2 linked regions of the Homo sapiens genome follow. The protein of the gene in region 1 interacts with the protein of each later gene in a biochemical or structural test. Each region holds a gene or a part of one and is shown on either strand. Other genes may lie near its edges.

Region 1 (5,270 bases):
TACATAATAACAAACATTTGTATAGTGCATTACTTAATAAAAGTTTCACTGTGGGAAAGAACTCATTGCCCAGATAAGGAAAAAAGGCTCAGAGATGTGAGTGACTTGTCTAAGTTCAAACTGCTAGTAAGTGGCAGAGTCAGCGCTTGGAAAAATACTCGGAGAGGGCATGAATATAAAGAGCTTCCCAACACTGGGAAGACGTGTCACGTCATCTATCAGCAGGACAGTAAAAGTCCACCAAATTGACTCAAAAACTAGTAATTAGGCGTAACAAATCCTTGGCTCTATGAACACCAAGTGTATCATGCCCATGAGAATTCAGAATTGGAACAGAGTGAGTAAAGGAAATTTAAAGGAATTTATGTTAAAAGGGATATTACAGCATAGTGAAGAGAACACTAAGCTGAAGATGGAGCCAGTAGAGATTCATCTGTGAAATGGGGCTATTTTGAACAAACGACTCCGCATACCCTTGAAGGCTCACAGGCCGGCTCCCATATGGGAGCTCCCTTGTCCTCCAGCTTCTGGTTGGTTCTGCCAGTGAGGACCCCTAGGCAGAGATAGGAGAAATGGGGAAACAAAGTTAGGGTTTACCCTTGGCTCCCTCCCTGTGAGGTCTCCTTCGATGGCAGTGGTCTCATCAAAGGCTAGTGCTCCTCTCAAGGGCTCCTGCTTTCCTGACTGTCCCCCTCCAGGCGGCCTTCCAGGTGCCTTCAGGCCTGCACCCTGTTGCTCTCCTAGCCCCTGCCCACATCTGTGGTATCAGTACATTTGTGAACGAATTCCCCTTACAGCATCCGCACTCAAATGCCGCTAGACCCTGACTGATGCATTCTGGAAGATTCCTCCCCATTGTCCATGTGATTGTTTGTGAACTATTTAACTCAGTTTGCTTGTTCTTTCTTTTCCATTGTAATGATTCCTGGCTTCTTCACACGAAGTGCATATGGTGTGCAATTATTAGAGGAAAGTGCCTTGAGTCTGCTCCATTTTCTTTAAAGTGTAACTGTTGTCCATAGTGACAAATAAGAGAGAAAACAAAAGTAGGTAAAATAAGGGCACATCTTTATTTTGCTACAAGGCAGTAAGTACACCGTCATATCTCAAAAGTTCAGTGCTGGCCATCTTGCATCAAATGTTCTTAAGGCAGTGACTGGCTATCAACCACAGTTTCTGTCTCCCCAGTTGCAAACACAGGATCCATGCAACAGTTCTGAGACCATACACTTAGAAACCACAGGGGATGCGGATCAAATGCAGAACTCCCAAATTATAAAACAGTCAGGCTACACTCAAAACAAAACATAGAACATCAACAACACACATCTCCCAAAAAAGAAGTGCAACGCATGCTTGTATAAACCAACAATAACAAAAAAACCACAATAAAAAATGCAGAGTCTCCCAAACAAGTTTTCAAATGTATTGCAGAAGGAAAAAAAATGTATATATATATAAAATTAAAAAGTCTGAAATACTAGTGCATAGTCAATTACCTAACACCAAGTTTCTTTTCTTTCTGTCCAAGCTCTACTGCCCCTCTGATACTAGCAGCATGTCTACAGGCTAAGACCATAGCAGCAAAAAACGTTTTTCATTTGGCATTTACAAAATTAAATTACTGAATAAAAATATAATTTTTTATAAAACTATTTCTTACAGTAATAATTTTTAAAGCAAGCTAACAGAAAACTCATAAAATGGTTTGGTACAATAAATGTACCTTCAATGTCATTAACCATAAATGAGCATTTACAATCTGGATTAAATGTCACATGGTATTAAGTCTACACTTAGAGTAATGCTTTTACTGATTTTTAAAAATATATGCATATGTTTAGTGATCGAGAAAAGTGAAATACTGGAGTACCTTTTAATGTGTCAAATTTCAAAAAACCCATCACAGGAAAAAATACTGATCTGTTGGATCCTTTAAAATACAGATAAATCATTTTATGTTTTTTTTAAAAAAATCTGCATTAAGATATTAACAACTGGCTACAATTCATTACCTAATAATTTAGGTAAGACTGTTATTTATTTTTAAAAATCCTTTTAGTTGGGTGAAATCCAAGAAGACTTCATTCAACTAAATGCACTTGGTGCTGCTCTCAACTGTTGTACCACAACAAAAATAGGTTCTTCTCCCATTCATGAAAAGTTTCATGTTGAGGAATGATATATCCCAAGTCAACTTGAAGTGTTCTGAAAACCATAATGCTTTTCTGGAAATGTCTCACATGACCAGCGTCCGGGCTGAGAATGCATTCACGTATTTACGAGCTTGACTGGAAGATGTCATCTGCTCCTCCATCTTTCCACAGGATGCAGGTTCCCAGGTACTGCTACAAGGCTGATGGAGAAAGGGATGGCAACAGGAGCGTCAGACAAAGAAGCTCATTCTATAGACCCAGCAGGGCCAGCACTGACCAACAGATGGCAAGTGGTTGACACCAGGAAGGCTTTGTCAGATAGAATCTTACCTCCCTGGCCCCCAGAAATCCGGTGTTCTTAAGGGATATGGATGATCAGAAATTATTTGTTAAGAGGGAAAACCCATTCCAAGCAGCTTCATAAGATATAATCCCATCTTCATATTTTAATGCCTTCCGTCTATTAGGCAATTTTACAAAGCTGGAGACAGGAATGAGCATTATTCTCCAGATACCTAAAGTGAGCTATGGCCATCTACTCACTAAGCAAACTGCTGAGTGCTGTAGCCACAGTGCAAAGCAGCTCATGCACGCACTGGAATTGATCAACACCTGCTAAGTGTCATATATATGTTTTCATCAATTACTTTAGAAATATTTATCAGTATAGTTTAATTTTTTTCCTTTTTTTTTTGAGACAGAGTCATGCTCTGTCATACCAGGCTGATCGGTATTGGTGCAATCACAGCTCACTGTAGCCTCAGCCTCCTGGGCTCAAGTGATCCTCCTACCTCAGCTACCCAAGCAGCTGGGACTACAGGCACGTGCCACCAAGCCCCACTAATTTTTGTATTTTCTGTAGAGACAGGGTTTCACCATGTTGCCCAGGTTGGTCTTGAACTCCTGGACTCAAGTGATCTGCCGGTCTTGGCCTCCCAAAGTGCTGAGATTACAGGCATGAAGCCAGTATAGTTTAATTTTTAAAGATACACTAGAAGATACAAGATGGACCTAATATCTAAGGACAGCATCTCCATGCCAGGGACAGTGGCACTTCACATTTCACATGCATTATTTCATTAAAACAGCACCATCACCTCGGGAGGCAGGTTCATTCTCTCTCTAGACAGGCTCGAGAATGGAGACAGAAAATGGAGGTAACTTGCCCAAGGCCACTCTGTAGGTAAGTGGTGGACTGGCTTTGAACTTTGCTGTCTCCAGCTCCTGCGATGCCTCTGTGTTGCCTCAAATGCAAACATGTACTATTTATGCCCCACTTGGTTTCCAAAAGGACGTAAGATGATTAGAAAAGAAATACAAGACAACAGAGTTTAAAAATGTGTATAAAGAAGAGTCATAACAGGGAAACAAATTTGGAAAAAATAAACACAGTTGGCCCTCTGCATCTGTGGGTCCCATATCTGTGGGTTCCACATCCATAGATTCAATCAATGGCAGATCAAAAATATTCAGAAAAAAATAATTGCTGTGTATTGAACATGTATAGGTGTTTTCCTTGTCATTATCCCCTAACAATATAACAACTATTTCCATAGCATTTACATTGTATTAGCTATTATAAGTAATCTAGAGATGACTTAAAGTATACAGGAATGAACGGGTACAATGTACATTATTCCAACGATAAATACACTCACAGCCTCGACTTTGACCACTATGCAATACATCCATGTAACAAAATTACACTTGTACCCCACGAATGTATACAAATAATAAAAAAAATTATATGGTAAGATGTGTGTAGATTATATGCAAACACAATGCTATTTTATATCAGGGACTTGAGCATCCCTGGACTTTGGTGTCCTTGCGGGTTCTGAAACAAATCCCCCATGGACACTAAGGAACAACTGTAACATGAAGATGGTATGAGATTTGCACACGAAACACCAGCATAAAGCACAGTGCCCCAGCTAGATGTAACCTCCTGCTTGACTCTGATCTCTCTAGCAGTCAATGCAGAGAGGGGAACAGAAACAAACAGATATAAGATTTGGTGGCTGTAAGCTCAAAAGGAAACCAGTGGGTTAGAAAAGGCACTATTCCTGGTATTGCTATCTGGAGGGATTATTTTCCATGGGACAAAAGAATAAGAAAGGCCTTAGCTGTTCAGAGCCTACAGTGTCCTTTATGAGACAGAATGGACACAGGTGAAACAGGAGGAATAATAACAGGCCGTGTGCGCAGGTTTGTGGTGTTGTCCATGGGAAGAGGGGATGGGACACTGAGGAACTGTCAAGGCAATGCTGTGGGGAAAGGGTGAAAACAGCTAAGATTAGGGGAGAGAGAGGTGGAAACGCAGGGATGTCATCCAGGGAGCGAGATAGCAGGAAAGAGGCAGGAAGCTGCAATTTGTACATTGCCAGTGGGAGGGGATGTGGAGTGGGGGAGGGCTGAGAAAGAAAGGGTTAAACGACAACATAAAACAAGCCCTCACTATAGGCACCGCATGCCTCTAAGTGTTATTGATATAACTCCTCTCATTTAATTCTCACACAAAACACCTGTGGCATAGCTACCATTCACTGCATCCATTTTACAGACCAGGCAATTTGAAAGGAAGAGAGGATTTAGGCGCCATACTCAAGGTTACCTGGGTAAGAAATGATGGAGCAAGAATGTCACCCATGGGACCACACCCCTGGTGAGTACCAGACGCTGCCTCTAATTCGAGTTCTTATCAGAAACAATAAAAGGAACCTGGGAAGTTGTGTGCTCAGGGCACCAGGGCCTTGGAATCCAGGAAAGTGCTGAGATGGGGTGTGAGAGTCACCAGACTTCTTAGCAAAGAAACATAATTCTACTAAAACAAGGTATGGGTACAGTGGTAGGGTTTCCTTGCCTAGTTGCTGCAACAAAGTTTCCTGACATAGGGTTTGCAGTGTAATGTTCTAGCTTTTAAACTTTCCTAGGGCACAAAGCTTGTGCCATCTCCCCACTGATGTCAACAGCACTGTCTATGAATAGAAATGTTCACTCTGCAAGCTCAGAGGCTCAACATATAACTTGAAATACTACATAGCAAGATGGATTATCATAATATTTTCCAGGAACTGAGTATCTCAAAAATGACAAGACAAAGATAACAGACAG
Region 2 (5,699 bases), on another chromosome or scaffold:
AAAGACATTATGCTAAGTGAGATAGACCAGACACAAAAGGACAAATATATGATTCTACTTACATGAAATATCTAGGATAGGCAGATTCATGGAGACAGAGTAGAAGGGTGGTTGCTAGGCACCGGGTGGAGGGAGAAATGGGGAGTTGTTAATGGGGACAGAACTTGTGTTTGGGATGATGAAAAAATTCTGGAAATGGTGGTGACACCTATACAATAATGTGAACGTATTTAACGTTGCTAGTAGTCCACTTAAAATGGTAATTTTATATTATGTATATTTTACCATAATTTAAGACAAAAAGAGTGTCAGAAGGCTGGGAAACCCCAGTCCCAGCAGGATGTGGCGTTTCTTAGGCTTGCTGAGGTGGAGCTGCTGCAGGCACAGCGCCTGGACGGGGCTGTGGCGCACGTAGCTCAAGTGCGCAGTGGCAAGGGCCCTGGCAATGGGCCAGCAAGCCACGAGGCTCCGGGTGCTGATGGTGTCTGGTGAGACGGCAGGGCCTGGGTGCGGAGGATCCGGGATGCATATTGGAAAGCTTCCAGGACAGCAGGTGACAGCCACACCTTAGGTGTCAGGGACAGAGATTGGGAGCAGATGGGGCTGAAATGGCTTGGAAGAGGCAGCAGGAAGCTGGGAGACTCTTAGCCCCACTCAACTGCATGGGAATTGGTAGTAATGTGATCTCAAGGCCCCCCACCTCTCTCTGCAAATGTTCAATGCAGTGGTGGCTTCTACACATTTCCAGAGCCATTAAATAATCTCGGCCCGGCGCAGTGGCTCATGCCTGTAATCCCAGCACTTTGGGAGGCCGAGGCAGGTGGATCATCTGAGGTCAGGAGTTCGAGACCAGCCTGACCAAAAAATGGAGAAACCCCATCTCTACTAAAAATACAAAATTAGCCGGGCGTGGTGGTGCATGCCTGTAATCCCAGCTACTCGGGAGGCTGAGGCAAGAGAATCACTTGAACCTGGGAGGCGGAGTTTGCAGTGAGCCAGGATCGTGCCATTGCCCTCCAGCCTGGGCAACAAGAGCAAAACTCCATCTAAATAAACAAACAAACCCCAAATATGTTACTTGTAACAATAACCTCTTCGCTTTTATGACAGGTCTGGTTCCAGGATAAATAAGCATGCCAGGCAGGTGTACAGTGATTTCAAACAGTTTAATGTAATTCCAAGACAAAGTGTGATTACATTTCTACACATATACAATATGCATATGTGAGTTTACAAATTTTAATTAATAAGTCATTTCACCTCGGAGACCGAAAAAATGATCAAAAAGAAACTATGAGTAACAAGCTATAACATAGTTCACCACAATGGGACCCCCCCCCCTTTTTCTCACCCTACAGTTAGTAATATTACAATTAAAATAACTATATTCTTCTATATTTTTTCTGTTAAAATCATCTCATAAATTTACAATGCTATTATTAGTTTCCAAGACTAATATAAATTCACTCCATTTTTCTACAACGAAAATGATTAATTTAGAAGCACACGACGTCATGATGAAAAACACAAGCATTTTAGTAGCAAGGACTTGATCAGTTAAGAATTAGTTTTCTTGTAAAACATTCTAAAGCCAAGTAAAATATCCATTCTTATAACATACCTATAATATGAGACTAAGGAATAGGTTACATATAGGTCTACAACACATTGGTTTGTCTTTAAAAAAACAAAAGTAGACATTTATAAATAAAAAAGAGGGACAATTCACATAGGAAAAAGAGGTACACGAGAAAATACTGTTGCACGCAATAATTTTCACACAGATTAACATGGATTAACACTTTTTATTACAGAAACCGTACGGTGAAGGAACACAACAGACCAGGGCTTTCATAGGGTTATTGAGATTGAGCTGAGATGACCTGGGAGAGAAAGATCTAGGTGAGATGACCCTGGGGAGGGAGCCACGTTCCTTGGACCTGGTGACTTAGTGTCGCCGGGTCTCCTCTTCCCTGTTCTCATTTTGGGGAGTGAGTCTTTCTATCCAGTGTCCTGAATTCATGAGCAGTTGAAAGGTAAACATTTCTGCAGATCCATTCTCTTTCTATCCTAATGGATACCATTTTTGGAAACGTGACAGAGTATCAGAGGCTGCAGCTCAGTACACGTGGTCAAAGCAAAACGGGATGGAAACTTCCAGTCACTCTGATTTGTTGCCCCCGTCACCCACTGATGCGCTTGAAGCTGGGACCCAGTGAGACAGCAGCAGCACCCTACAGGGCCTGCTGGCTCTGCCGTGGTGAGGTGGATGACAAGGGCCCGGCGCCACGCCTCAGCCCCATGTGTGCGGAGTGGCCTGGGACACAGCCCATGCACGTCCAAGACACCAGTCTTGACTCCGACCTCTAAAGAGCTCCTTCTCCTCATCTGTAAAGCTATACTTCTCCTATCCAATTTGGTTTGATATATATACACAAACATATATATCAACATCTATCTCTATACAGTGATTCTACTAAATTAGAAATTCTGCTGCCCCAAAGTATGACTTTCTTGTCTATTTCATTTGGTTAAAAAAATGCACACACAGAGGATGAAGAGATGATTTGGGGGCTAGAGATGACTGTGCCCTGGAAAGTCCATGGAAGAAGCTTGAAGTGAGCAGGAACACAAAAGGGAGGAGAGCAGAAACGGGGGACCGACTGACTCAGGGCAGCGCTGACGGGAACATCTGCTTGGGGTGGGGCGGGGCGGGGGTGTGCTCTCTGTTCCATTTGTTAGTTACAGGAAGCTACCAAGGATGCACATGGTCAAGTCACTTTCTACTTCCCAAGTTCCTCCTTATAACCTGAGCCAAACAATTTCAACAATGACAATCCATTGCCCCTTCAGCCCAGCAGGCGACTCTGACAGGGAGGTGTGACCACCAGTCTCAAGGCTGAGTGGGGCCTTCTTGCTGGCTCTCGCGCTTTCTGGGAGTCCTGGGTGCCTTGGCCCAGGGCAGTGGTGACAGCAGGGTGGAGGCAGAGGTGGCCCCGGGGACAGTGACCCTATATAAGGAAGGGGGCGGTGCCAGGAGAGATTCGTTTGGAGATTGGTTACAAGGAAGCGAGGGAGAGCAGAGGCAGAGCCCTTTTTCAGATACAACATACTTACTTTTCAAATGAACAAAAGGCAATTTCTATGTTTTAAAAATATAAGCCCCAAAAACAATGACACAAAATTCATTTGGTTAATTCATGTAAAGGAAAAAACAGCAACACCACCACACAAACAGGAAAGTGGGAGTATGATTAGGAGGGGTGAGATGAAAACTATTTTACAGTAACATTTCCACCAAAAGACTGTCCTAAGAACACGCTGTCAATACAGTTCACAGGGAAAAAGCAAATGTGGTATTTTTTTGTATTTTTTAAAAGCTCCCTGGTCCCAGGTGTTTTGCAGTTTTCAAGGTCTTATCTGCTAAAGGAATGCCCTTTAGGTCACAGCAGGTCCTCTGCAGTTTGGTGGTGGCACAAGAGAAAACATAAAAGAAACCAAGACTCAGGGAAACTGCCATTCCCCCAGTCTGTTTCTGCATGACAGTGGGGCCCATTCCTGTCTCGAAGCATCTTCTTGTTCCAAATATGATGTCTGTTTAGAGTGGGTCTCAATGGACCAGGCTGAGCTGCCCCTCTGTCTCTGCCTCCTCCTGCTCAGCCCTGACCATCTCTGAGAGGATGCTAAGGTCCCCCTCCCACCGAACTAGACTTTGAGTCTAAGCTGGACAATGAGTAAAACGTAAACATAGCCTTTTACATTGATTTTGCTTTTAAGGGGAAAACGAATAAATGACAGCAGATATATGGAAAACCCAGCCAGCGACCATGGGAATAGGGGTATATGGTCCTCCCCTACAAAACGCTGATCAAAATATCACCCCCGGCCCAGAAGTAGCAGCTGTGCCTTCATGGTCACCTGAATCCCAGTCTCTTCTACTGCCTGGTGCCTGGAAATCAGTGGATCTATTAATAAGTTAAATATTCAAATCAAGACAAAAATCAATGAACCAGGTTATCTGTTCTCAATGACTCTTCCAAGATGTCAGAGAGAAGGCCTTGAAGACAAGTGTTTAGACGACACGCATGAGACCTTCGCATCTGGCCCGGGCTGCGGACTCACACCTTTTCCCTCCATCTGGATTGCCTTTCATGTTCTCTTGAGTTCACGTGGAAAGTAATAATCCAGAGGGAAGTGCGCATGCTGGACTACAGAAGAGTCTGGGACAACACACTTGCCTTGGGGGAGACACAACCTCCAACTAAGAGGCATTCACTGGGGTTTGCGGATGTCAGTTATAAACAGAACTTTTCTTTAAAAAGTACCAGTCTAAATGTAAACTATAAAACACTTTAACTATAAAACGTAGCCAGAAATATGCTTAAGTATCCACAGTCAATTGTTTAGTTTACTCATTTAAAATGTGACTGTTTTGATAGCTTAGAAGGCTAACAGCATTTTACAGTAGCTAAAAACATATATACTTAACATGTGCATTTGAACATCGCATTTGAGTACAACACACAAAGAATAATCTCTTCCTTGGTTTAATTTTTGTTGTAAAGATGAGCTATTTTCAGAATTCACTTAAGCAACGATGACCGGGGGTATGAAGTAATCATTATTTTCAGCCCACAGAGAATTCATAGTCTTTAAATTCCAAGATCAAGCTGGCTACATGATTTCAAAAAAGGCTAAAACCAGGATGAATGCCCACATTTGAGGTAATTATTGCCATTAGGTCACAGTTTGTGTAAGATAATGTATCTAAAACCTTCTAAAAAAAAAAAAAATCTTTAGGTGTTCTGCCAGAATTCCAGAATACCTATTGAAACCAACCAGGATCTCAAACTCCGATTAGTTAGGTTTGCTTCCAATGGAGTTAAAGTTCTAAAAGATTCTAGAACTTGTGTAAACTACCTAAGAATTTAGGCAAACAAGCCTGGAGCCAGTCAACAAAGAAGGTTTTAAATGAAAAAAGGAACAAGAAACCCACTCAAAACAACTGAACAAATATTTCATAATAAATGATAATAGTTATTTTAAAAAATTAAAAATCTAGTCCTAAGCATTTCTACATTCTCACCATCTTTCAATCAAAATAAAAATGCATCTGTATTTCTGTTAATCTCATACCAGGGCAAGAGACACGCCTTCCTTTTATCATGAAAGCTGGCTGGTTTTCCTGTTTATACAATTGTTGCTATTTCTTTGAGAAGAGTATCTCAAAAGAAAACATTCTTTTGTTCCTCTAAGTCTTGTCTTTCTTCCACCTCTACTTCTTTTTTTTTTTCTTTTTTTTTTCTTTTTTTTAACAGAAAGAAAAAAGTTCCTGGACACCAGACCCACATATGGTATTTACAAATTTGGTGTGAACCCTGCCTCTGGTTCTGCCCAGAGCTGAAGAGTGAATCTATTACAGAGATCAGAGCTGTCAGGATAATTATCAAGTGCAGTAAAAAATAGCATTTTGAAAAAAATATATACCTTTAGTATTGCCTTTCTAGAATTAACTATAAGCAAGAAAAACTTATTTTTTAAAGAAGAAAAGAATACTTTTTCACTCTTACTTATAAGAGCTGGTTGTAGCAGCACTACTAAAGCTAGTTGGTATGCTGGAAAGAAATCTAAAAGGAATTCTATGAATCAAAAGAAACTCTCCAGAGATTTTCTCTAAAAATCAAACGAATTCTGCCCCT

Evidence for each region. Proteins that work in one complex are often made in the same cells at the same time.
Region 2: the proteins of MYB (region 1) and HIPK2 form a complex in vitro, tested with the Homo sapiens proteins (one study listed by BioGRID).

Annotation. Positions count from the first base shown.
Region 1 is NC_000006.12:135,214,950-135,220,219, reverse strand, and holds the end of MYB (transcriptional activator Myb), read right to left. Parts: intron 4,822-5,270; exon of another isoform or gene 4,720-4,821; intron 3,340-4,719; exon of another isoform or gene 2,357-3,339; coding exon 2,240-2,356; 3' UTR 1,048-2,239; downstream 1-1,047. UniProt on the Homo sapiens protein: Transcriptional activator; DNA-binding protein that specifically recognize the sequence 5'-YAAC[GT]G-3'. Plays an important role in the control of proliferation and differentiation of hematopoietic progenitor cells.
Region 2 is NC_000007.14:139,560,423-139,566,121, forward strand, and holds the end of HIPK2 (homeodomain-interacting protein kinase 2), read right to left. Parts: 3' UTR 1,148-5,699; downstream 1-1,147.